3 linked regions of the Homo sapiens genome follow. The protein of the gene in region 1 interacts with the protein of each later gene in a pairwise test. Each region holds a gene or a part of one and is shown in the gene's direction. Other genes may lie near its edges.

What was found. Proteins that work in one complex are often made in the same cells at the same time.
Region 2: the proteins of SORT1 (region 1) and FAM3C interact in binary tests that used the Homo sapiens proteins (3 or more experiments, as listed by UniProt).
Region 3: the proteins of SORT1 (region 1) and CNIH3 interact in binary tests that used the Homo sapiens proteins (3 or more experiments, as listed by UniProt).

Annotation. Positions count from the first base shown.
Region 1 is NC_000001.11:109,324,279-109,332,568, reverse strand, and holds part of SORT1 (sortilin isoform 1 preproprotein), read left to right. Parts: intron 1-4,967; coding exon 4,968-5,070; intron 5,071-5,408; coding exon 5,409-5,577; intron 5,578-7,479; coding exon 7,480-7,670; intron 7,671-8,290.
Region 2 is NC_000007.14:121,357,686-121,365,482, reverse strand, and holds part of FAM3C (protein FAM3C precursor), read left to right. Parts: intron 1-1,294; coding exon 1,295-1,353; intron 1,354-2,535; coding exon 2,536-2,586; intron 2,587-5,355; coding exon 5,356-5,440; intron 5,441-7,797. UniProt on the Homo sapiens protein: May be involved in retinal laminar formation. Promotes epithelial to mesenchymal transition.
Region 3 is NC_000001.11:224,724,143-224,731,939, forward strand, and holds part of CNIH3 (protein cornichon homolog 3), read left to right. Parts: intron 1-1,781; exon of another isoform or gene 1,782-3,723; intron 3,724-6,155; exon of another isoform or gene 6,156-6,319; coding exon 6,320-6,432; exon of another isoform or gene 6,433-6,450; intron 6,451-7,797. UniProt on the Homo sapiens protein: Regulates the trafficking and gating properties of AMPA-selective glutamate receptors (AMPARs).

The DNA of each region.
Region 1 (8,290 bases):
AGGCAAAGTCTTAGTCTGTCACCCTGACTGGGGTCCAGTGGAATAATCATAGGTCACTGCAGCCTCAAACTCCTAGGCTCACACAATCCTCCCACGTCCCAAGTAGCTAGGTGTGTACCACCACACCTGTCTAATTTTGGTACTTTTTGGTAGAGATGGGGTTTCACCATGTTGCCCAAGCTAGTCTTGAACTCCTGGCCTCAAGTGATCCTACCACCTCAGCCTCTCAGCTGGGATTACAGATGTGAGCCACCACAACTGGTTGTTTTGTTCTTGATGTACCTTAAGTACCTAAAACAGTGCCTGAAATATAGCAGGTACTCAGTAAACATCTGATGAATTAACGTGTTTGGATTGTTCTGTGTTGTCACAGAAAGAGGGTTATTTATAACCATATAATAGTAAAAAAAGACAGTCAAAATAATAGGCATTACATTTAATCTGTAGATCACTTTGGGTAGTATGGACATTTTAACAATATTAATTATTCCAATCCAGGAACATAGGATATATTTCCTTTTTTTTTTTTTTGTCATCTTCAATTTCTTTCATCAATGTTTTGTAGTTTTTAGTCTTTCACCTCCTTGGTTAAATTTATCCCTAAGTTTTTTTTGTTTTTTTTTTTTAAGTTTTTTTCTTGTACTATTGTAGATGAAATTTTCTTGATTTCTTTTTTGGATAGTTTGTTGTTAGTGTATATTGTATTTTTATATGTTGATTTTATATTCTGCAACTTTTTTGAATTTATTAGTTTTAACATTTTTGGTGGAGTCTTTAAAGATTAAGGATTTTTATATATAAGCTCATGTCACCTGCAGACAGACAATTTTACCTCTTTCTTTCTGGTTTGGATGCTTTTTGTTTTTATTTCTTTTTCTTACTTAATTGCTCCAGCTAGGACTTCCATTACTATAATGAACAGAAGTGGTGAGAATGGGCATCTTTGTCTTATTCCTGATCTTAGAGGAAAAGGTTTAGCTTTTGACTGTTTGAGTATGATGTTAGCTGTGGGCTTGTCACATATAGCCTTTATTATGTTGAGGTATATCCCTTTTATACCTAATTTATTGAGAGTTTTTATCATGAATGGGTTTATTATGTTGAGGTATATCCCTTTTATACCTAATTTATTGAGAGTTTTTATCATGAATGGGTGTTGAAATTTGTTAAGTGCTTTTTCTGGATTTATCAAGATGATATGATTTCTATCCTTCATTCTATTAATGTGGCATATCTCATTTATTGATTTGCATATGTTGAACCATCCTTGCATTCCACAGATAGATCCTACTTGATCATGGTATATAATCTGTTTAATATGCTGTTGAATTCAGTTTGTTAGTATTTTGTTGAGAATTTTTGCATCTATGTTCATCAGAGATATTGACCTGTAATTTTGTTTTCTTCTAGTGTCCTTGTCTGGTTTTGGTAGCAGGGTAATACCACCCTTATAAAATGAGTTTGGAAGTGTTCCATTCTCTTCAATTTTTGGAAGAGTTTGAGAAGGATCGGTCTTAATTCTTCTTTGAAGAAAGTTTGCTAGAATTCACCATTGAATCCATCAGGTCCTAGGCTTTTCTTGTTGGGAGGTTTTTGATTACTGATTGAGCCTCCTTACTCATATTAGTATGTTCAGATTTTCTATTTCTTCTTCATGATACAGTCTTGGTAAGCTGTATATGTCTAGAAATTCATCCATTTTTTTCTAGATTATCCAATTTGTTGATGTATAGTTGTTCATAGTAGTCTCTTAGGATCCTTTGTTTTTTCTGTAGTATAAGTTATAATGTCTCCTCTTACATTTCTGATTTTACTTGAGTCTTTTCTTTTTTTCTTATTCTAATTAAAAGTTTGTCACTTTTTTATCTTGTCAAAAAAAACAACTCTAAGTTTCATTGATCTTTCCTGTTATTTTTCTAACTTCTATTTCAGTTATTTCTGCTCTGTTATTATTTCCTCCCTTCTGCTAACTTTGGGCTTAGTTTGTTCTTTTTCTAGTTCCTTGAGGTATAAAGTTAAGATTTTTGAGATTTTTCTTTTTTCTTAATGTAGACATTTATCACCATAAACTTTCTTCTTAGAACTGCTTTTGCTGCATCCCTTAAGTTTTAATATGTTGTGTTTCCCTTTTCATTTGTCTCAAGTTTTTTTTATTTCCCTTTGACTCATTGGTTGTTCAAGAATATGTTGTTCAATTTCCACATTCATGTGAATTTTCCAATTTTCCTCCCTTTACTGATTCTAGTTTCATAATGTTGTAGTTGAAAAGAACTTGAGGCCAGGCACACTGGCTCACGCCTATAATCCTTGCACTTTGGGAGGCTGAGGTGGGTGGATCACGAGGTCAGGAGTTCAAGACCAGCCTGGCCGACTTGGTCTCTACTAAAAATACAAAAAAAAAATAGCTGGGCGTGGCAGCGGGTGCCTTTAATCCCAGCTACTCAGGAGGCTGAGGCAGAGAATTGTTTGAACCCGGGAGGCGGAGCTTGCAGTGAGCCAAGATCACGCCACTGCACTCCAGCCCAGGTGACAGAGTGAGACTCCGTCTCAAAAAAAAAAGAAAGGATACTTGAGGTGATTTCAGTCTTACATTTGTTAAGGCTTGTTTTGTGGCCTAACATATGCACTATCCTGGAGAATATTCTCTGTGCACTTGAAAAGAATGTATATTCTGCTGCTATTGGATAGAATGTTCTGTATATGTCTGTTAGGTCCATTTGTATGGTGTTGTTCAAGTTTGCTCTTTCCTTACTGGTTTTCTGTCTGGATGATCTATCATTGAAAGTAAGTATTGAAGTCCCTTACTATTATTGTATTGTCGTCTACCTCTTTCTTCAGTTCTGTTAATGTTTGCTTTATACATTTAGGTGCTCTAATGTTGAGTGCATTTATATTTACCAATGTTATATGCTCTTGATGAATTGACACCTTTATCATTGTGTGGTAACTTTCTTTATCCCTTGTGATAGTTTTTTACTTAAAGTCTATTTTGTCTGATATAAATATAGCCACCCCCGGCTGGACATGGTGGCTCACGCCTGTAATCCCAGCTCTTTGGGAGACCAAGGCGGGCGGATCACGAGGTCAGGAAATCAAGACCGTCCTCACTAACATGGTGAAACCCTGTCTCTACTAAAAATACAAAAAATTAGCCGGGTGTGGTGGCAGGCGCCTGTAGTCCCAGCTACTTGGGAGGCTGAGGCAGGAGAATGGCATGAACCCAGGAGGCAGAGCTTGCAGTGAGCTGAGATGGCACCACCGCACTCCAGCCTGGGTGGCAGAGCGACACTCCGTCTCAAAAATAAATAAATAAATATAGCCACCCCTGCTCTCTTTTGGCTACCATTTGAGTGGAATATCTTTTTTTTATCTCTACTTTTAGCCTATGTGTCCTCTTACACACATAGGCCTTTACAGATGGCTTCAGCAGGGGAAGCCCTTACCAGGTAGCTCATCCAGAGATTCTTGGGGGGGCAACTGACAGGTTCTGCAGGTAGGTGGGCCTGGTGCCTTGGTCTTTGGGGGTAGCTTGGAGGCTGGGTCCTCTGCGGCAGGCCTGGCAGTGGAATCCACTAGGGTGGACCTTTTAAGTGGGTCTTCAGGTGAAACACCTGGAGCCCGGTAAGTAGATCTGCAGGAGCCAGCCTGGTGCAGGGGTGGGCCCTACCCTGAGCCTGCAGGGGCTGGCCTGATGCAGGGGTCCACTTGGCTGGGTCTGTGAGAGTGGACCTGGAGCCTTTAAGTTTCTTAAAGACAAGACTGGATCTTATTTCGAACCACCATCACATCTTGTACGGTGTCTGAAGTATATCAGGTGCTTATCAAGTTTATTTGTGTAGAGTCAGCCTTTAAACATTGTTCAGAGGCTTTGATGTAATGCAAAAATAAAATAAACGGAGACAGGTTACCCATGAGGAAATATTTGCTTCCAGATATTGTAGTACATTTCAGAATCAAGAGTATGCCACTGAGCTACAACTCAACAACAAACAAATAGCCTGAATAAAAAATAGGCAAAGAACTTGTATAGACATTTCTCCAAACACAATATAGAAGTGACTAACAAGCATATAAAAAGAGGCTCAGCATCACTAATCATTAGGAAAATGCAAGTCAAAACCACAATGAGGTATCTCCTCACACAGATTAGGGTGGCTACTATTTTAAAAAGTGTTGGCAAGGATATGGAGAAATTGGAGCCCTGGTGCACTTTTGGTGAAAATGTAAAATGGTGCAGCTGCTACAGAAAACAGCATAGTAGTTCCTAAAAAAAATTAAAAATAGGATTATCATATCCAGCAATTCCACTTCTGGATTATACATCCAAAAGAGTTGAAAGCAGGTTCTCAAAAAGATATTTGTACAACCATGTACATAGCAACATTATTCATGATAGCCAAAAGGTAGAAGCAACTTGTGTCTATTGACAGATAAATGAGTAAATAAAGTGTGGGGTGTGTGTGGATACAGATACACACACACACTTAAATAATATTTAGCCTTTAAAAGGGAGGAAATTCTGACATATGCTATTAATACAACATGGATGAGCCTTGAGGACATTATGCCAAGTGAAATAAGTCAGACACAAAATGACAAATATTATGTGATTCTACTTATATGAGCTACCTAGAGTAGCCAACACAAAGTAATATGGTAAAAATCATAGAAAACACAAAGTAAAATGGTAGTTTCCAGGAGCTGGGAGGAGGAAGAAGTAGGTAACAGTTGCTTAATTGGTGATTGTATTTTATAAGATGAAAAAGTTTAGAGATGTGGTTGTACAACAATGTGAATATACTTAACACTACTGAACTATACACCTAAATAGTAAATAAATAGTTAAGATAGTACTTTTACCTAGGTCTGGGTTAACTTAAAGCTTTATTGGAAGGGTTTTGTGAAATGATTAAAGAAATTGTATCTTTATCTTTGGTTCTAATCTACGCTTTTGTTTCTTTTCACAGTGCAGCCTTCATATTCATGCTTCCTACAGCATCTCCCAGAAACTGAATGTTCCAATGGCCCCACTCTCAGAGCCGAATGCCGTAGGCATTGTCATTGCTCATGGTAAGGAACCTCCCACTCACCACCTCCAACTGGAACAGTGGCTGAGCACACTGAAACTCAGCCAACAGGCTTTGAACGCTCTGAGAAGAAACAATGTGGATGCTTTTACATTCCTTTGGTAGAATTTCTTACATTATAACAACACTTTGGGTTTTTCATCAACTTTTATCAGAGAGAGCAACACAACTTCTCCGAAGTTTTTGGTGGTTTTCTTTCCTACTAAAAGAGGCTTGATGGGAAATAATCAGAATAAATTCATTCAACATTATTCTCTCTGGAGTAAATGCTCTCTGTTTCATTGCCTATTTGTGCTAATGAGATGGTGGATTATATTGCAGGTAGCGTGGGGGATGCCATCTCAGTGATGGTTCCAGATGTGTACATCTCAGATGATGGGGGTTACTCCTGGACAAAGATGCTGGAAGGACCCCACTATTACACCATCCTGGATTCTGGAGGCATCATTGTGGCCATTGAGCACAGCAGCCGTCCTATCAATGTGATTAAGTATGCATGAACTCATCTCACACACACTGTCTGCATAGAGGGCAACTGGGGGAATGTTCTTCAGTTTATTGGGGGGATGTTACAGACTATAATTCAAATTTTTGCATTTGACAGAACTATAGATAAGATTCTAGAAAGGATTGCTTTTAATTGGCAACTCAGATTAAATGGCATTGTTTTTTCTTCTGACTGCCTTTAGCTAACATATTTGTCACTTCTTAAAAACATTCTTTCTGGGTTGGGCGCAGTGGCTCATGCCTGTAATCCCAGCATTTTGGGAGGCCAAAGCAGGAGGATCGCTTGAGGCCAGGAGTTCAAGACCAGCCTGGGCAACATAGGGAGACCTTGTCCCTTGTCTCTAATATTATTTCAATCAAAAAAAAAACCATATATATATATATGTGTGTGTGTATATATGTATGTGTGTGTGTGTATATATATGTGTATATATATGTATATATATGTGTATATATATGTGTATGTGTGTATATATGTGTGTATATATATGTGTGTGTGTGTGTGTATGTATATATATATATATATATATATATATATATATATATTCTTTCTGTCTACAAAATTATTATGGAAGCGTTCAAGCACTCTAGATTGAAAATGACTTCTTAAGTACAAGTTCTGAGCTGGGTGCAGAGGCACACACCTGTAATCCCAGCACTTTGAGAGGCCAAGGTGGGTGGATTGCTTGAGCCCAAGAGTTCAAGACCAGCCTGGGCAATGTGACAAAACCCTGTCTCCACAAAAAAAAAAAAAGAAAAATTAGCTGGGCGTGGTGGTGCACGCCTTTGGTTCCAGCTACTTGGGAGGCCGAGGTGGGAGGATCACCTGAGGAGGTCAAGGCCACAGTGAGCTGAGATCGTACCACTGCACTCCAGCCTGGGTGACAGAGTGAGATCCCGTCTCAAAAAAAAAAAAAAAAGAAGTATAAGTTCTTATAAAATAATTTGATTGTTATTTATTTATTTATTTATTGAGATGGAGTTTTGCTCTTGTCACCCAGGCTGGAGTGCAATGGTGCAATCTTGGCTCACTGCAACCTCTGCCTCCCAGGTTCAAATGATTCTTGCGTCTCAGTCACCTGAGCAGCTGAGATTACAGGCATGCACCACCACACCCAGCTAATTTTTGTGGTTTTTTGTTTTGCTTTGTTTTTTGTGTTTTGGTAGAGACGGGGTTTTGTTGTGTTGGTCAGGCTGGTCTCGAACTCCTAACCTCAGGTGATTCACCTGCCTCAGCCTCCCAAAATTCTGGGATTACAGGCGTGAGCCACCACAGCCAGCCTTAAATTTATTAATTTAAAAGCCAGTTCTTACCTGGGTCACTCTCCTGTCTTTCCTTTGAAATAATTTCTGTAAAGGTATTTACTTTCATATTCTCTCTGAACAAATCTCTTCCTTATCCTGTTAACTACAGACGTTAAAAGTTAAAATAGTTGGCTGGGTGCGGTGGCTCACGCCTATAATCCCAGCACTTTGGGAGGCCAAGGTGGGAAGATTACCTGAGGTCAGGAGTTCAAGACCAGCCTGCCCAACATGTGAAACTCCATTTCTACTAAAAATACAAAAATTAGCTGGTGTGGTGGCACGTTCCTGTAATCCCAGCTACTCAGGAGGCTGAGGCATGAGAGAGAATCACTTGAACCCAGGAGGCAGAGGTTGCAGTGAGTCGAGATCGCGCCACTGCACTCCAGCCCGGTGACAGAGTGAGACTCCATCTCAGAAAAAAAAAAAAAAAAAAAAAAAGTTAAAATAATTGTCAGCCAATAAGCCACCACCTAAATGTAAGGGGTTTTGTCTGGTTTGGGATCAAAAAGCCAGAGTGGTTTTCTGAATTCCCAGTACACATTGATCCTCTGTCATGATCTTTCTGTAATTGTGGTTTCAGGTTCTCCACAGACGAAGGTCAATGCTGGCAAACCTACACGTTCACCAGGGACCCCATCTATTTCACTGGCCTAGCTTCAGAACCTGGAGCTAGGTCCATGAATATCAGCATTTGGGGCTTCACAGAATCTTTCCTGACCAGCCAGTGGGTCTCCTACACCATTGATTTTAAAGATATCCTTGAAAGGAACTGTGAGTGTCTCCTTTGACCTTTTCTACCAGAAACTTCCAAGTCCATTTTCCTAAATAATCAATATGGTTTAATTTCTTTTAGCTGGAATCAGCAGATGCATATGCATATGAAAGAGGATTGACAGATGTTCTGTGTGGGTGATTAAGTAATGGAATGGCATCAGAAAAACAACCTCCTCCTCGGTGCTAGCACTGTCCAGGAGAAATATGAGGGCCACATATGTCATTTAAATTATTCTGTCAGCTATATTATAAAAGTAAAAAGAAAGGTGATATTAATAAAATAAACTTAATATATCCAAAATATTATCATTTCAACATTAAGCAATATTAACGGCCCAGAAAATAGGTTCAGAAAAGGATTCACAATGTTCATTGCACAGTGTTTCCAAAGTGTCACAAGCAAACCCTAACCTCACTGCCAAACAAAGATGCTGGCATTATGCTAAGAAATAAGGGGAATGGCCAGGCGCGGTGGCTCATGCCTGTAATCCTAGCACTTTGAGAGGCCAAGATAGGCAGATCACGAGGTCAGGAGTTCGAAACCAGCCTGGCCAACAGGGCGAAACTCCATCTCTACTAAAAATAGAAAAATTAGCCAGGTAAGGTGGCGGGTGCCT
Region 2 (7,797 bases), on another chromosome or scaffold:
AGTTCTAGACTTGAGGTGAGGGAGAAAATATTACACAGATTAAATTGAAAAATATGTCCTATCTATATCTATTATATGGTGGATAGCACCAAAAATGTAGGAAGTAGTCTTCCAATATTTAAAACTTATTATCTGATTCAGTCATCATTGACAGGCAAGTGGAATTTGAACATGAATCTCCATTATTTGTTTTTCTTTATTTTATCTTATTAACATAGATCCAACGTTTGTTAGAACTGAGCTCATTCATCAATTGCAACCATAGTTCAGCTGCAGATGTGAATTGTTTGAAAAATCAACTAAAATACTCTGTGAGAATCGACTGAGATTTATAATAAAGTACATCGTAGATTTTATTTATGAAATTGTGTGCTATACATCTTTTAGTAGTTTATAATAAATTGTGTACCTATGTGTATATATAATTCTGTCTATATAAGGACAAGTGTGTGCACGTGTAGTCACATATGTGCATATTGCCTCTCTCTCCTAAACACAGAGCAGTTGTTAAATAGTTAACAGCACACCACTGGGAGTATTACTATTACCTTGAAGTTTTGAGTTAAAAGAACTCACAATTTTAGTTTAATAATTCTAATTTGAGCAATTGAACAAACTGAACTGATAACCAGCAAATTTGTCACTGGTACCTTCCATTTTACAGTGTCATTGTCTTTATATAGTGGTCTGTGAGCTGCCCATGGAAGTCGATTATTTCAGGTAGTCACCACGTAAGTGACTGTCATTCAATGCAGTGATTTCATGAGTGCAATATTTCTTAGTGTAGACGAACTTTACAGTGATAATCACTAGGAGAATGTTCACAATTAGGTAAAACATTCATGAAAGAGTGCTCCCCCACTCTGTTTGCTTTTAGATTTAAATGATGGGGGTAGTATCTCGCTTCTGTTTCATGTCACGCTGGTATTGAAGAGAGCAGAAAAGAGATTATCTTTTGTTTGATACCTTAAGAATGATGCAGAACATATGCTTAATGTCCATGTTTTAAGAATAATCTGAAGCAGTGTAGCACAAAAATGGTCTATTATTTCAGGCCTAATATTTTTTAATATGTATTTCTATTTGTGAAATATTATTTAAGGACATTGCTTTAAAATTATTCAGTATTAGACTGTCTTCTCTGACTTAGTAGAGATCTTTTTAATTTCCTCCGCAGCACTGAACAATTGAAAATATGTATAATATTCCTAACTTTTTTTGCAAGACTTTATTTTTCTGATATGTTATTGTACAATATTTAATTCTAAATTTATTTCAATTTCTCCCCCTTCAGTTTAATGAGTGGTGTTAAGAATAATGTTGGAAGAGGGATCAATGTTGCCTTGGCAAATGGTAAGAACAATTATTTTAGCTTATGGATGTAATCATTGGGTATTTTTCTGTCCCAAAGTAAAATGCACTATCAGAGGATCAGGTTAGAAAGTACTGCTCTTGATGATAAAGCCCTCTGTCCCATCCCTGCCCTGCAAAAAATCTATGGGTGGAGACTTGGTGTCTAAGAATTTATAGCGTGTTTCTTGAAAGTATCCTAACTTGCTATGCAAGAGCTTCCATGAGATTGTCAGAAACCAAGCAGTCTAACATCACATTGATAAAATCTTGCTTCAAATTTTGGAATCCTAACATAATAGGAAGATAGGTTGACAGGATTAAAGGCGTATGAAATGACAAAGGATGGTGTAGGGGGAGGAACAAAGAATAAGAATGTATTGTAATTTTTCATTATCAGCCACATTCTTCTGATAGCTTAATTAGTATGAATAAGTTGATTGAATCCTGAACATCTCAAATTTTCCTTCAAAATCAAATCTGAAAACATAAAACCATAAAGTGAGGCCTAACTGCATATTGATCCTCTCTGTTCTGGTACAATAAGTATTCCATAAAGCTATGTAGGATGGTTATAAGATATATAGGATGGTTAGAAACCACTGTAGTTTCATAGTGTAGAAAAATATATTTTACTACTTTCACAGCAAGAGGTAAATTTTTGTTCTTCTGCTTTCTTCATTTCCTTAGGTAAAAGGTTCAACATCTGTCTATTTCATTAATAGCAAAAAATACATTTTATAGGGCAAGTTAATGTAAGTTTTATTGTAAAAACTGATTTAATGTAGAAAATGGCATCTGATTCAAGGAGATACTTCTTTTTTGTAAAAGGTTTACTTTTGAGTAATTTTAAAATAAGAGAATATGGAAACAACGATGAAATATATCTAACCGAATTGGAATGGTCTACAGTCAGTAATGAACTTCTATTTATCCTTCGGCTTAAAAGATTAATGAGAAAGTTCTATTAAGAAATTACCCTTTAAAAATATATTTCAGGTGCATATGATTCAGATTTTAAGTTCTCAAAGTAATTCTTTGAGATGAATTCACATCTCTCTAATGCTAATGAATTCACATCTTCTCTGCTAATGAATTCACATCAATCATTGGATGAGATTATTGGTCTTACAGTGTATGATATATTTCAGATGCATAATTTGATATGAATTTAATCTCTTTTAGGAAAAACAGGAGAAGTATTAGACACTAAATATTTTGACATGTGGGGAGGAGGTAAGCATAAATAACATGACTGTGTTCTTTTGCTGGCACTGACTTAATCACCTCAATACAATGTAGCCCATTAATGAGAGAATGATGATGCTATTTGCGTTAGTTCATTTTGTTTCCCTTACTTTCTGTTCACTAAATGTCCAGCTGTATTTAAGTTATCATTCATGTTTTATATACTTTCTTCTTCTTAGAAAAAAATTTTTGTGGTGTATAATTGAAGATAGTAATATCAAAATTGAGATTTTTTTAAAAAAAGTCATCTTGTTTTCTACAGGACAACCAATTCAAAAGTTTTGGGCTCCTTTAAGTGTGTCTAAAATTTAAAAAAAAAAAGTAATTTGAAGACCAGAATAACCAATGTAAGCATTCCTAAGTGATAGGAATTGATTTTTTTTTAAATGTGATTTTTTAGTCTCAAAAATAAATCATTAGGAGCATTAGGAGCATTAGAAAGACAAGATAAACTATCAGTTTTAGAACAGCAGTCCTATTATTCATCACAGTTCTACCCTCTGACTTGCAGCTAATTTTTTAGGTAGATGAATATTTGAGGGAAGAAATAGAATTTTCTTTCTTGTAAAGCAATCCACAGATATTTTCCCCTTCCATATTTGGAAGTCCCACAAGGAGTGGGAAGAAGTTACCAGCACGCAGAGGCAAGGGACTGGCACCCCAAAGAAGAACGCTGCCCGGAAGAATGGGTTTTTTTCCTCCAGTTTGAAGGGAGGCCAACACTGGTTTATCTTTTGATTCTTTAATTTGGGAGATTGATCAGTATGAGGATCTCCCCTGCACCTCCCCATTCCATTTATATATTCCCTAGAAGCCAACAGCTATTAGGCTTCCTGAAATTCATGTTAAGAGTTCTCAGATAATTTAGCTTTTCCAACATATCTTCAGCTTGTAATAAGATGGTATGTAGCCGGACGTGGTGGCTCACGCCTGTAATCCCAGCACTTCGGGAGGCCGAGGCAGGCAGATCACGACGTCAGGAGATGGAGACCATCCTGGCTAACACAGCGAAACCCCGTCTCTACTAAAAATACAAAAATTAGCCGGGCATGGTGGCATGCACCTTTAGTTCCAGCTACTCCTTGGGAGGCCGAAGCAGGAGAATCCCTTGAACCGGGGAGGCAGAAGTTGCGGTGAGCCGAGATCTTGCCACTGCACTCCAGCCTGGGCGACAGAGCCAGACTCCGTCTCAAAAAAACAAAAGATGCCGTGTATTATTTTGTTATTAAATAATGTTAGGACAACATTGCATAGCTGTCAAAGCTGTATAAACTTAAAATGGGACCATCAATTTTAGATTCTAAAGGCATAAATTGGTCCTGCCAAAATTTATTGATAGAAAGAGTCTTACAAAGCTGTTGTTGAAATCAGTCATGTGACCAGGAGCTCTGGTATTCCTTACTTCTCTTGTCACAGGTAGATTAATTACCGCTAGCAGCATTCTTCTAGTTAGGAAATTGTTGCAGTTTATTGCCACTTTTGCATTTAAATGGAAGTAGTTTGTTAGCTGCCTTGTTATATCTTTTTGAATTGAAAATGCTATTATTATGAAATATAATCAGTTATCGAAAATCTTTGGCATCTTTGCTGTGGAAAGAAACTGAGTACATTTGAAGTAACCCAGTTTTGGAGTAGAATTAGACTTCAGAGCTATAAGGAACCCAGACATTGTAAAGAGTTCAAGATGTCAAGTGGTTTTTAGAATCTGACCTATGTATCTGGCATCAACAGTTTATAGTCATTGAAGTGGTTTATTTTGAAGTCCTTGTGGATTTTGATTTGGTAGATCAAATGAGTAATGACTGTAATATTTGCTACAATTAGTTTGGCTTTTAGTGATCACCTAACATATTCCTTCTCCCAGTTTATAGCAAATGATATACCTAAAATAGCCTTTAAATCTGTGTGTATATGTATTTTTAGATTTTCTAAAAATTACAGATATCTTTGAGAATCGGAGAAAAGCTGTGTATCCTCTTTCTAGTAAAGTACCCATACAAACATTGTTATGCTTTTTTTCGTTTCGTTTTTGTTTTTTTGTTTTGTTTTTGAGACAGGGTCTTGCTGTGTCAACCAGGCTAGAGTGCAGTGGTGTGATCTCAGCTCACCGCAACCTCCACCTCCTGGCCTCAAAGCAGTTCTCCTGCCTCAACTTCCTGAGTAGCTAGGACTACAGGCATGTGCCACCAAGCTCGGCTAATTTTTAAATTTTTTTGTTGAGATGAGGTCTCACTATATTGCCCAGGCTGGTTTCAAGCTCCTGGGCTCAAGCCATCCCCCAGCCCTGACCTCCCAAGGTGCTGGGATTACAGATGTGAGTCACTGTGCTCAGCCCATACAATTTTACATACACTTAAGGAGTCCACACACCTCCCATGCCTCCTTAAGCTTATGCATGGACCCCAGAATAAGGTTTTCAGGATCCCAATTATTCAAATCTGAGAGATCTCTGAATTTCTTACTTCGTAAGTCATGCTTTACTTTGCTATGATTTTTTTCACTTAGCCCCAGGAATATCAATACGAAAGACACAGGATAAATCAGGAATGGGAAATTGTAAGTTGATAGTGGGATTATGTTAAGGGACAAATTTAACAGTTTTTAAACTCTTTATGAGATTTGTCTGTCTTTTGGATTACTTTACATTGGAAATTATTGCTTTACAGATACTTCATGTTTTATAATACTACTTTCAGAGATTATCGTGATGCTTATTCAGTCATTTTTTAAAACCCTAAACCCTTTCTTTTTCTTCAGATGTGGCACCATTTATTGAGTTTCTGAAGGCCATACAAGATGGAACAATAGTTTTAATGGGAACATACGATGATGGAGCAACCAAGTATGTAAACTTTACAGAACTTTTTGGAACTATAATTTGTAATTATAAAAGCAATACATTTTCATTAAAAAAAAATCTGTAACATAGAGCAAAGTAATCAAACTACCAGGTAAACACAACTAACAATTTTTGTTTTTACTTTGCCTCCTTCCTGGTTTTATATGTAAATGTTTATCACACATATATTGTCATGAAATTAGAATCACATCATATGTAACATTTTTTATACTTTTATGTTTTGTTTTTTAACATTCTGAAATTGTTTTTCCTAGCATTAATATTCTTCAATAGCATTTTTATGGTTCATCAGCAGTTATGGGCTCACCTTTAAAGTTTCCCTATTATTATGTCATTAGGGTAAATTTCAAGAAATGGAGTTAATTGTCAAAGATACAGGTGTGCTATATTTTAAATAATTTTAATATATAGTAGTTTTATAACTTTTTCTTAAAATAGTATATGTTGTAAAAATTTGGAAAATTATAGAAAAGCGCAAAGAGACCAAGTTCCAGTCCATCTCACTACCCAGTGTAAACATTGATGATATTTTAGTTTCTATTCCAGATGACTTAAGACACATTTTTTGGCATTAAATATTTAGAATGCTAGTATTTATAGCATATCTCTTCACTTACGTGGTGAATATTTCCCCTTATTATTAAATATTCTTTATAAAAAATTGTTTATGCCTGCCTAGTCTGGTTTTTAAAATGTCATGATTTATAACCTGTTTAATGGGTTGCCTATTGCTGGACCCAGACTAGTTCCAATTTGCATACTTAGCACAATAGACTATCTTAGAAATGTTTGAACAGTCCATGTCTATGTCTTTAAGATAGACTTCTTTTTTTTAAAGTGGAAATGATTAATTAAAGGATGTGCATGTTTTTAAAAATGGATTTTAAAAATTTTTTTACCAATTTTATATTTTTCTCAGAAGTTCCATGGCACCAATTGTTAATTTTTTTAAGTTTCAATTTTAAGAGTTTGAAAAGGTATCTTATTTTAATATGCCTTTATTATTGAGATTGGATTTTTTTCACAAGTGGTTTTTTTTTCTTTTGCCTTTTTATGTAAATTGTCTTTTGACCATTCGAGTTGGCCTATCTTGACTTGTAAGACCCCTTCACGTTTTAAGGATATTAACCATTTCTAATGTAAAAAGAAATGTATTTATTGTACATTATTTGCTTTTAATTTTGTTAGTGTAGGGTGCTTTTTGAATTTTAGAATTTTAGACTAATGCCTATATAGTCTATGTATTTTTCTATCACTCTCCTTGTATACTTGAGAAGTATTTTTCCACCTCCAGGTTAGATATTTAGTAGATTTTCTCTTCCAGTGATTTCACTGTTGTCATGTATTTTTAAAAACCCATTTGTAATTTCCCCATGACACACAATGCCTATGTTCTTATGTAGATTTGGCTTTATCTCTGGAATTTCTGTTCTGTTCCATTCACTTGACCTGTTTATCTCTGTTCCAAAAAGACACTATTTCAATTATTTTAAAATTGTTTTATAAAAGTAATTGTACTTCATGCCTCTCTGGTTGAGATTAAATCCCCTTTAATGTTCTTCTTTCTAGAAAAAAATAATTTTTTCTCTGACTTTTCTTCAGATGACTTATCAAGGATAAAAAACATCCTTTATAGATTTTAATTGACAGAGCTTTAATACTACAAGATTTATAGATTTTATAGATTTTAATTGACAGAGCCTTAATACTACAAGATTTATACAGAAATTTGTATTTTTATGTATTGATTTTTATAAATGTATTATTTTATAGCTACATTATCACAGATTTACATGAAAACAGTGATACTTTATAAATGGTTGTAAGCTGAAGTAATTTCATTGACATTGTGCGTTTTATCTGGTTCAACTAAGAATATATTAAATCCATAAATTGAAGGTTAACATAAAACTCGCCTATTCAAGCATTTTCATCTACCTAAATAGAATGAAACAGGATGTAATTAGGCTCTCATCAAAAAACAGGTAACTTGCTATTTGCTTTTGCTGAGAGAATAGGCTATTACGTGTAAAATTTGAAGTTTTAACATTAAAAAGAAAAGGCCCCACTTTTCTGACTTGACAAACATGACCTCCGTTTTTCACCAGATTATTTTGTTATACCTGATGGGAATCAAAATTGCTCCCCTTAACCTGCTAATATGCTAATAATAAATTATAGCCACAACTAAGAACTAGGGGAGGAATGATGTTTACTCTTCAACTGCTATTTTTTGGTGCCCATTAAATGCACCAAAAGCAGCTTTGGAAGAGAGTTCAACCTCTAGGGCAAAAGGAAAAATCTAAACTTTAATTTCTTTACGTTTGGTCACTTGGTCA
Region 3 (7,797 bases), about 120 Mb from region 1:
CTTAAAACTATTTAATAAACTTTGATGCAAATTCCAGGAGGTCAAAACATTTAATATGCCAGCACCAACAAATAGGGACCACTCAAGTCGACCCAACCCAAGTCCCAGCTGGCGGAGTGTTCCTACTGTATCATGCCATTTGAGGTTGGCTGCTAGTCCCTGACACAGCAAGGCCTATGGGGCTGGGCAGCCCTCCTGGATGCCCAGGCTGGTGCAGGCTTTCCAAAGACGACCTTCATCCAGAGTGATTAAAGAGCATGTGGCCTCCTGAGAGCAAAGGGGCCCAGAATGTAGTTTCCTGACATTGCTTGGAGATGCTCACGTGCATGATTATTCATTTGGGAACAAATGGAGAATGATCTCCATGCTGGGAATACTGACTTCGTCCGGGGCATCCCAGAGGGATCCTCTGTTTTAGGGCCAGTTTAGTATGGGCTGAGGAATCAAATAAAAGATATAGTATCTTTTTCTCCACACTCTTTGGCTCCTGGGGCAAATAAACCTTAGGGCAGACACACAGAACTGGATTATTGCTGTTGAAAACAGGCAAGGATTGAGGTTTTTTATGATTTGAGAGGCAGGCTGTTGAAACAGCCCTTGGTTTCTCTTCCCACTTGAGGAAGCTGGAGCTTGGTTCAATCAGAGGGAGTCAGGAGACTGAATTGAAAAATCAGGAAACCAACTCTGGTTCTGGGTCATTTCATTGACTTTCACGGTAAGAGCAACAAGTTATCTACCTGAGAATGGTCATCATCTAGTATATGATTATTAAAAATAATAATGACCGGCCAGGCATGGTGGCTCATGCCTGCAATCCCAGCACTTTGGGAGGCCAAAGCAGGTGGATCACGAGGTCAGGAGTTCAAGATCAGCCTGGTCAATATAGTGAAACCCCCATCTCTACTAAAAATACAAAAATTAGCCGGGCATGGTGGCACATGCCTGCAGTACCAGCTACTCGGGAGGCTGAGGCAGGAGAATCACTTGAACCTGGGAGGTGGAGGTTGCAGTGAGCCAAGATCGTGCTACTGCACTCCAGCTTGGGTGACAGAGCAAGACTCTATCTCAGAAAAAATAATAATGATAATAATGATCACAACACAATAACAATAGTGGTGTCTTCTTTTGCTGGAGGCTTCTTCACTTTTGAGAGCACTGTCATTCATAGTACATCCTGTGTCCCTGGCTGGTAGGTATGGCATTTTACAGATGGGTAAAATAAGACTCAGCATGGGTAGCTGCTTTTCTAAATAGCACACAGTTGAGTATTATGTAACTGTAGGAATTTATATAATGCTTTGAGACACTGGGCTAATATATTGAGACTTATGGGATTACAGCTGTAAAGCTTGTTGTCTGAGTCGACAGGGGCATTCAGAGATGGGTAGAGACTCTGAGTCTCACAGCTTCTACTGTCTTCAAGATAAACTCAGTGCCAGGAGCTTCCCTGTGGCTTCCATAGCTGTGACTTTTAAAGTGTTTGGTCCCAGGCATGCTGACACCAGCCCCTCAGAAAACCTATGCCCTTGGAATGCATGATGAGAGCCAGGAGCAGACGGATCTCCAACAACAGGGGCGCTTGCTGCCTCTTCATCTCCCTCATCTTCTCCCTTCCCCTGGTCTTAAGGAATCCCTTTTCTCCACCAGGAGCATTATTCCCTTGCTTCAACTCCAAGCATCCCCTTCCTACTTCTTTTCCTTTAGGGGTAAGAAGAATCTCTCCCACAACCCCTGATGCCCCTCTCCACCACAGTAGTAAAAATAAGACAGGACTTGGCACACGATTCTATTGTTTTCATAATCTATAAAGGGTACCAATCAGCTGCAGGTCATTGATGGGATAAAACAGCAAACAAATGGATACATGAATGAATGAGAGGATACATAACTAGAAATAAAATATTTAGAATGCAGACAAGTAAAATTCCTGGAAAAACAAGATTGTGGACAATGGCTTACAGCTGAGCTGAGCATGGCATATACTGCTCTGTTGGGTGGAGGGCACATGTGTGCAGGGATGGAAACCTGCTAGAAGGTTCTTGCACCAGCCTGGAGAGGAGGTCCAGGGGCAGGATAAATAAAAAGGAAGGAACAAATGCAAGTGGCTGTGAAGAAGCAAGATTTGGAAACAGACTTACATGGAGACTGATGAGAAGAAGGAGTCAGAGATGGTATGGTTAGTAGAAGTTGGAAATTTAGGAGATAAAGTTTGCAGGTACTGATAGGAATGTGAATTTCAGCACAAAGTGGTTGTGGGATATCCAGGTGGAAATGTTTGCCAGCAAATGAAAATTGACTATTAGCATCTGGGTAGGAAGTCAGGACAGGTGGAATACAGTTAGCGTTTACACAGTCCTTACCGGTTATCATTAATGTCCTTTAATAGGGGCCCTTTGAGGTGGCCTTGTTAAGGAGCCACCCCAGACCAGTGACTTCCATCTCTCTATGCTTTTGCTTTCACTGTTCCACTTCTAGGATGCCGACCTCTGGTTCCCATAAGTGATTAGGTTTTACTCGCCCTTTCCAACTTCCCTTTGATCACAAACCTTCCATGATCCCCCTGGTTGGAATGAATTGCAGTCTTTCAGTAATCCCACAATACTTATATTGAGATTTAGGATTTATGACTCTAGAAAGCAGGGTAATAATACATGGCAATTCAATAGGCTGTGGCTTGCATGAAATAGTTTCTCCATTTGTTGAAAGAATGAGATTGGCACCATTCAACAGCTTCTCTTATTAAAAAAAAAAAAGTGTTTTCCAAAGCTAAGGGATGACTCAGGGTCATGGGGCTGTGGTGAGCGCTTGCATCAGCATCTCTGTATTTTGCTTAGAAGCTTTAGGGGTGGTCCTTATATAACAGACACTCTCAGAGTTGGGAGGGAACGCCTGGTCTGACTGCCCACACAAATGAATGAGCATTATGCCTGCCTGGTGGTTATTCAGCCCCTGCCCGAGCATGTCCGGTGACAGGGAGCTGTGTCCTGCCGGCCTCGATGGCTTGTTAAGGAAGGGCTGAGTGGATGGTTGGGGGAGGATAAACAGTGAAGAGCACAACTTTGCTTTTCCCATTGATTACTCAGTCTGGGGCTTGCTGATGGTATCATATGAGATAGGTTAAATCATGCTATGGCAAAACAACAACAACAACAACAACACTCAACTCTTGGCAGCTTAAAACAACACAAGTTTCTTTACTGCTCACACTCTAGTCCATCATGAGTTGCCTGGGGGCCTCTTTCCTTACTTGTGGCTTCAGGATGATGGAGTACCCACCATCCTAAATGCTTTTTGCTTTGTCAGAGGAAAAGGAAAAGAGACTCTGGAGAATTTTGTATCAGCCGTTAAGTGGTCTGGCCTTCTCTCCACATCACTTCTGCCCACAGCCCATCAGCAGCCCCAACCCCTGAGAGCTGGAAAATGAGACCTTACCACCTTCCAGAAGGCTGAGTGCTGGGTGTGAGTGGAGGCAGCCATAATGGCTATGGTGCAGGCCTCATGCAAATGGCCTGGCTGATTTCCATTTGGTCTAGAAGGAAGAGGTTCCTTACCTCTTCCACATCATTGTGACAAGAAGCAGCTGGTGAAGTAGGCAAGGATCAGTGTGTGTATCAAAAGGTCACTGTCACTCCTAAAAGTCTCTGGATTAATTGGAGGAGCCTCTTCTACTTGTAAGGATCCTGTTCAGTGTTCTAGGCATAAGAGGTCATCTAGAGAAGCCACCTGAAATGGCAGAATAAATTCTTCAGCTTTTTTCCCAACCTCCAAAAGGCTGGAGACCTCCGTGACTAGCTGGCCTGCATTAAGCAGTTTTCCTCTACGTGGAGACAGTGATGAATCCTCCCTGCTTGGAAGGTTGCAGCCTCCACAATAAATCAAGCCCCAAAGAGAGAAGAAGCAGTGGTGATTAAGAGTGGGACCTGAAATCCAAACTGTAATCAGTCAGAGATTTGTCATTGGAATTGGAGATGGAGATGGAGAAATAATGGATGATTCAGGCCCACGGTGGCTGTCTCTAAACATGTTAATTGCCTCAGCTTAAGTGGCTGAAACTGATGATTAGAAAATGTAGAGATGTGCATAGCAGAACTCACAGCCACTGCCTCCCGGGGCTGGCGCACCCAGCTCTGAGAAAGTGGGCTTTCTCTTTGAATGGGAGGGGGTAGGGTGATGCCTTGGCTGGGGGTAGATAGGATTGGTTATCACAGCTCTGAGGTCCTATAAGGAGATACAATAGGGACATGGCGTGCCCCCTCCTGCCAGGTGGTTGAGATTCACAGGGGCTGGTGGTACCTGCTTCACCCACCAAGGGTCACCACCTCTGGAATGATGGCTCCTTTGCTCTGATTCCTCAGGTGATTGCCTGAGAAGTCTAAGGTGAGGGTTAATGCAATTCATCTACACTGGACTTTGAGAATAAAGAAGGTGCCCCATAGTTACAAAATGTCTTACACGTGTGCTGTGCATGTCTTTATTTTTAATGTGTGCGTATGTGTTTCTCCCTCTGTGTCTGCCATCTGGGGTAGTTAGCTCATCTAACTAAATTGAGAGACCAAAGTCATGGTCCATACCCAAATGGGATGGTTTGAGGGAGTTTGTTCTCCACCCAAAGAAATCTTAGTTTGTAACCACAGGCTGCATATCTAATGCCAGCCAGCCATGTTGTAAACATATGCACTTGGTCATTTCAATGCACTTTACCACGTATTTGTTAAGTCTCTCCTAACTGCCATGCATTGTACAAAGGCGCTTTGCAAATGGAAATGAGAAAAGAATAGACGTTGGCTAAGATGGCTTGCAGAATGCTGGACAGAGGAATCTATCTGTATTGGAAGGTGGGAAGAGGATGATGACTCCACAATGGATAGATTATGGAAAGTACCCCTGGGAGGGGGTCAGAAAACATGCTGTGGGGCCCAGAGGTACAGGGGAGGGTGGAGGAACAAGGGACGGTAGGCAGAGCTCCCAATAGAAAGTGTCATTTGAGGCTGGGGACGGTGGCTCGTACCTGTAATCGCAGCACTTTGGGAGGCCGAGGTGGGCAGATCACCTCAGGTCAGGAGTTCAAGACCAATCTAGCCAACATGGTGAAACCCCCTTTCTACTGAAAAATATGAAAATTAGCTGGGCGTGGTAGCAGGCGCCTGTAATGCCAGCTACTTGGGAGGCTGAGGCAGGAGAATTGCTTGAACCCAGGAGGCAGAGGTTAGAGTGAGCCAAGATCACGCCACTGTACTCCAGCCTGGGCAACAGAGTAAGACTATGTCTCCAAAAAAAAAAAAAAAAAAAAAAAGGTAAGTGGCATTTGAGATGGGCCTTGAAGGATGTTTCAAAAGATTTTGATGGGAAGAACAAAGTATTCATGAGAGCCTAAACAATACAAAGTATATTTATATATTATATAAATAAATATATTTAGTAATATGTATCTATATCTCCCTATATAACTGGGTAAAATGGTGCATTTATATCTGTAGCCTTCCCTACTGCTGGTCTAGGTGCCAAATTTCTTCCTTACAGTTACCCTTTAGCTTACAACTTTGATTTCTGATAAAATGAAGTTACCCTTGGGAGCAGCTTTTCAATGATTTTAAGCTCCTTTTACCCATTTATACCTGTGTGGCTGGATTGGAGGTGGGAGAGCTTAGTCTTCCTGCTGGTCACACTTCCCACCATCAGGCCTTTCTTGGTCAGGATCAGTTTCTTCCCTCTTCCCCCAGAGGCTACACTGTCCCTCTTCATCATTGCTAATTGTTGTTTTTCTCGCGTTCCTCTTGCTCCATCCACCATCAGGCAAAATGCCACTGCCTTCTGAGGCTGGCCATTTTTTCCTGACCCTCCTATATTTGTGATAAATGTACATATTCACTTTAGGTTTGTGAGTTACTATAGGAGGATACACAGGGGCCAGAAAAACAAGAGCAGGGCAGTTATGGATTCATTAGAAACCCTTGCAGTATTTCTCCTAGTGGTCCTGCCTTGGGTCAGATGACACATGGGCTGGACCAGCTCTTCCAGTCTTCCCAGTGGCCATCCATGGGTGACCCCTAGGAGCAAGCGTGGTATTCTGTTAATAGTAAGCAGTGCACTGAGGGCTTGTGTCATTTGGGTTTGGGTATAATAAAAAGAGGAGTGCCATAAAAAGAAGAACTTACCAGAAATGGATCTGTGTTGGGGCAGTGGCTCTACGTTGCTGCAGGGAGGGCCTTTGTGTCAACCGTCTGTGAGAGGCAGTGTCCAGGCAGAAGTCAGCTGCCATAGAAGCAGGAGTGGCGTTTTCCTCCTCTAACTCAGGGCCGTGTCTCTGCTCCCTCTTCAGCTGGTGCTGCCAGAATACTCCATCCATAGCCTCTTCTGCATTATGTTCCTGTGTGCGCAAGAGTGGCTCACGCTGGGGCTGAATGTCCCTCTACTTTTCTATCACTTCTGGAGGTAAGTCAGACTGGGACTGGTATATCCTTCGTCTTTTCTGCCAGGGCAGCCTGCTCTCCAGTGATGATGTCACCCAAATAGACAGCTTCTATTGCCTTCCAATCATCCCTTCCTTTCTGGGTCTCTCTCTTTAAAGCCTGTTCCCAAACTGCTCTTAGGCAACAAGTCCAATAAGGAAAGGCCCTTTTTGTTGGTTTCATTAACCACAACCCCATCCCTTGTAGGTCAGTGTTAAAAGCATCTATAGTTGCATTCACAACAGCCAAAGAGTGGAACCAACCCAAATGCCCATCAGCTGATAAATGGAGAAACAAAATATGGTATATCCATACAATGGAATACTATTTGTCAATAAAAAGAAATGAAGTACTGATACATGCTACAACATGAAGCCCTAAAGAAAGTATCAGTGAAAAAAGCCAGACACAAAAGGCCACATATTTCATGATTCTATTTATAGGAAATGTCCAGGAAAGGCAAATCTATAGACAGAAAGTAAATTCATGGCTGCCAGGGGCTGGGAGGGAATGAGAATAGGGAATGACTGCTAATGGGTCAAAGGTTTTCTTTTTAGGGTGATGAAAATGTTCTGAAATTAGATAGTCATGATGGTTGCACAACTCTATGAATATACTAAAAACCACTGAATTGTACAGTTGTACACTTTAAAAGGGTGACTTTTATGGTATGTAAATTATATCTTAATAAAAAAAAAAGCACCTACCAGATGGGCTGGATTTTCTGGGACAGTTATAATTTCATAGATTCTATTCCCTGCTAAGACCATGTGTCAGATCATGTGATTTTTGGCTTTTTGTAAAATAGAGTCACCATATGGACACAGGAGGCAGAGGTGGGGGAATATCTAAATAGTAGAGAAGGTATTTGCGCAGATAAGTTGCCTGCCCTTGACCCTTTGCTGCCAGAGCATTGGACCCCAAAGTGTTTTATCATTTTTATTGTACCATAAAATCTGGCTTGAATTTAGCCACACCTAAGACATGCACTCCTTCATTTAGAAAACATACGGGATACATAGTACACGCCAGGCATTGTGAGGGATTTCACGTTAAGTGTAAAGCAAAACCTTTACCCTTAAGGAACGTACATCCTAGTGGTGGAGGGAAATATGTTCTTAACAGACATATGAGGAATACTGGTAGGAGCATAGAGAAAGAAGCACTTAAATTAGACTCAAGAGTGACATTGGAAAAGCACATTCCAGGGCGAGGGCCCAGCATGTGCAAAGGCCCAGAGTTAAGAGAACACTTGTTGTGTTTGGGAAACAGTAGTTGCTCAGTGAGGTTGGATGTAGGGTTCTTGGAGGGAAATAAGAAGAGACAGGGTTGGCAGGCAGCTGAGAGT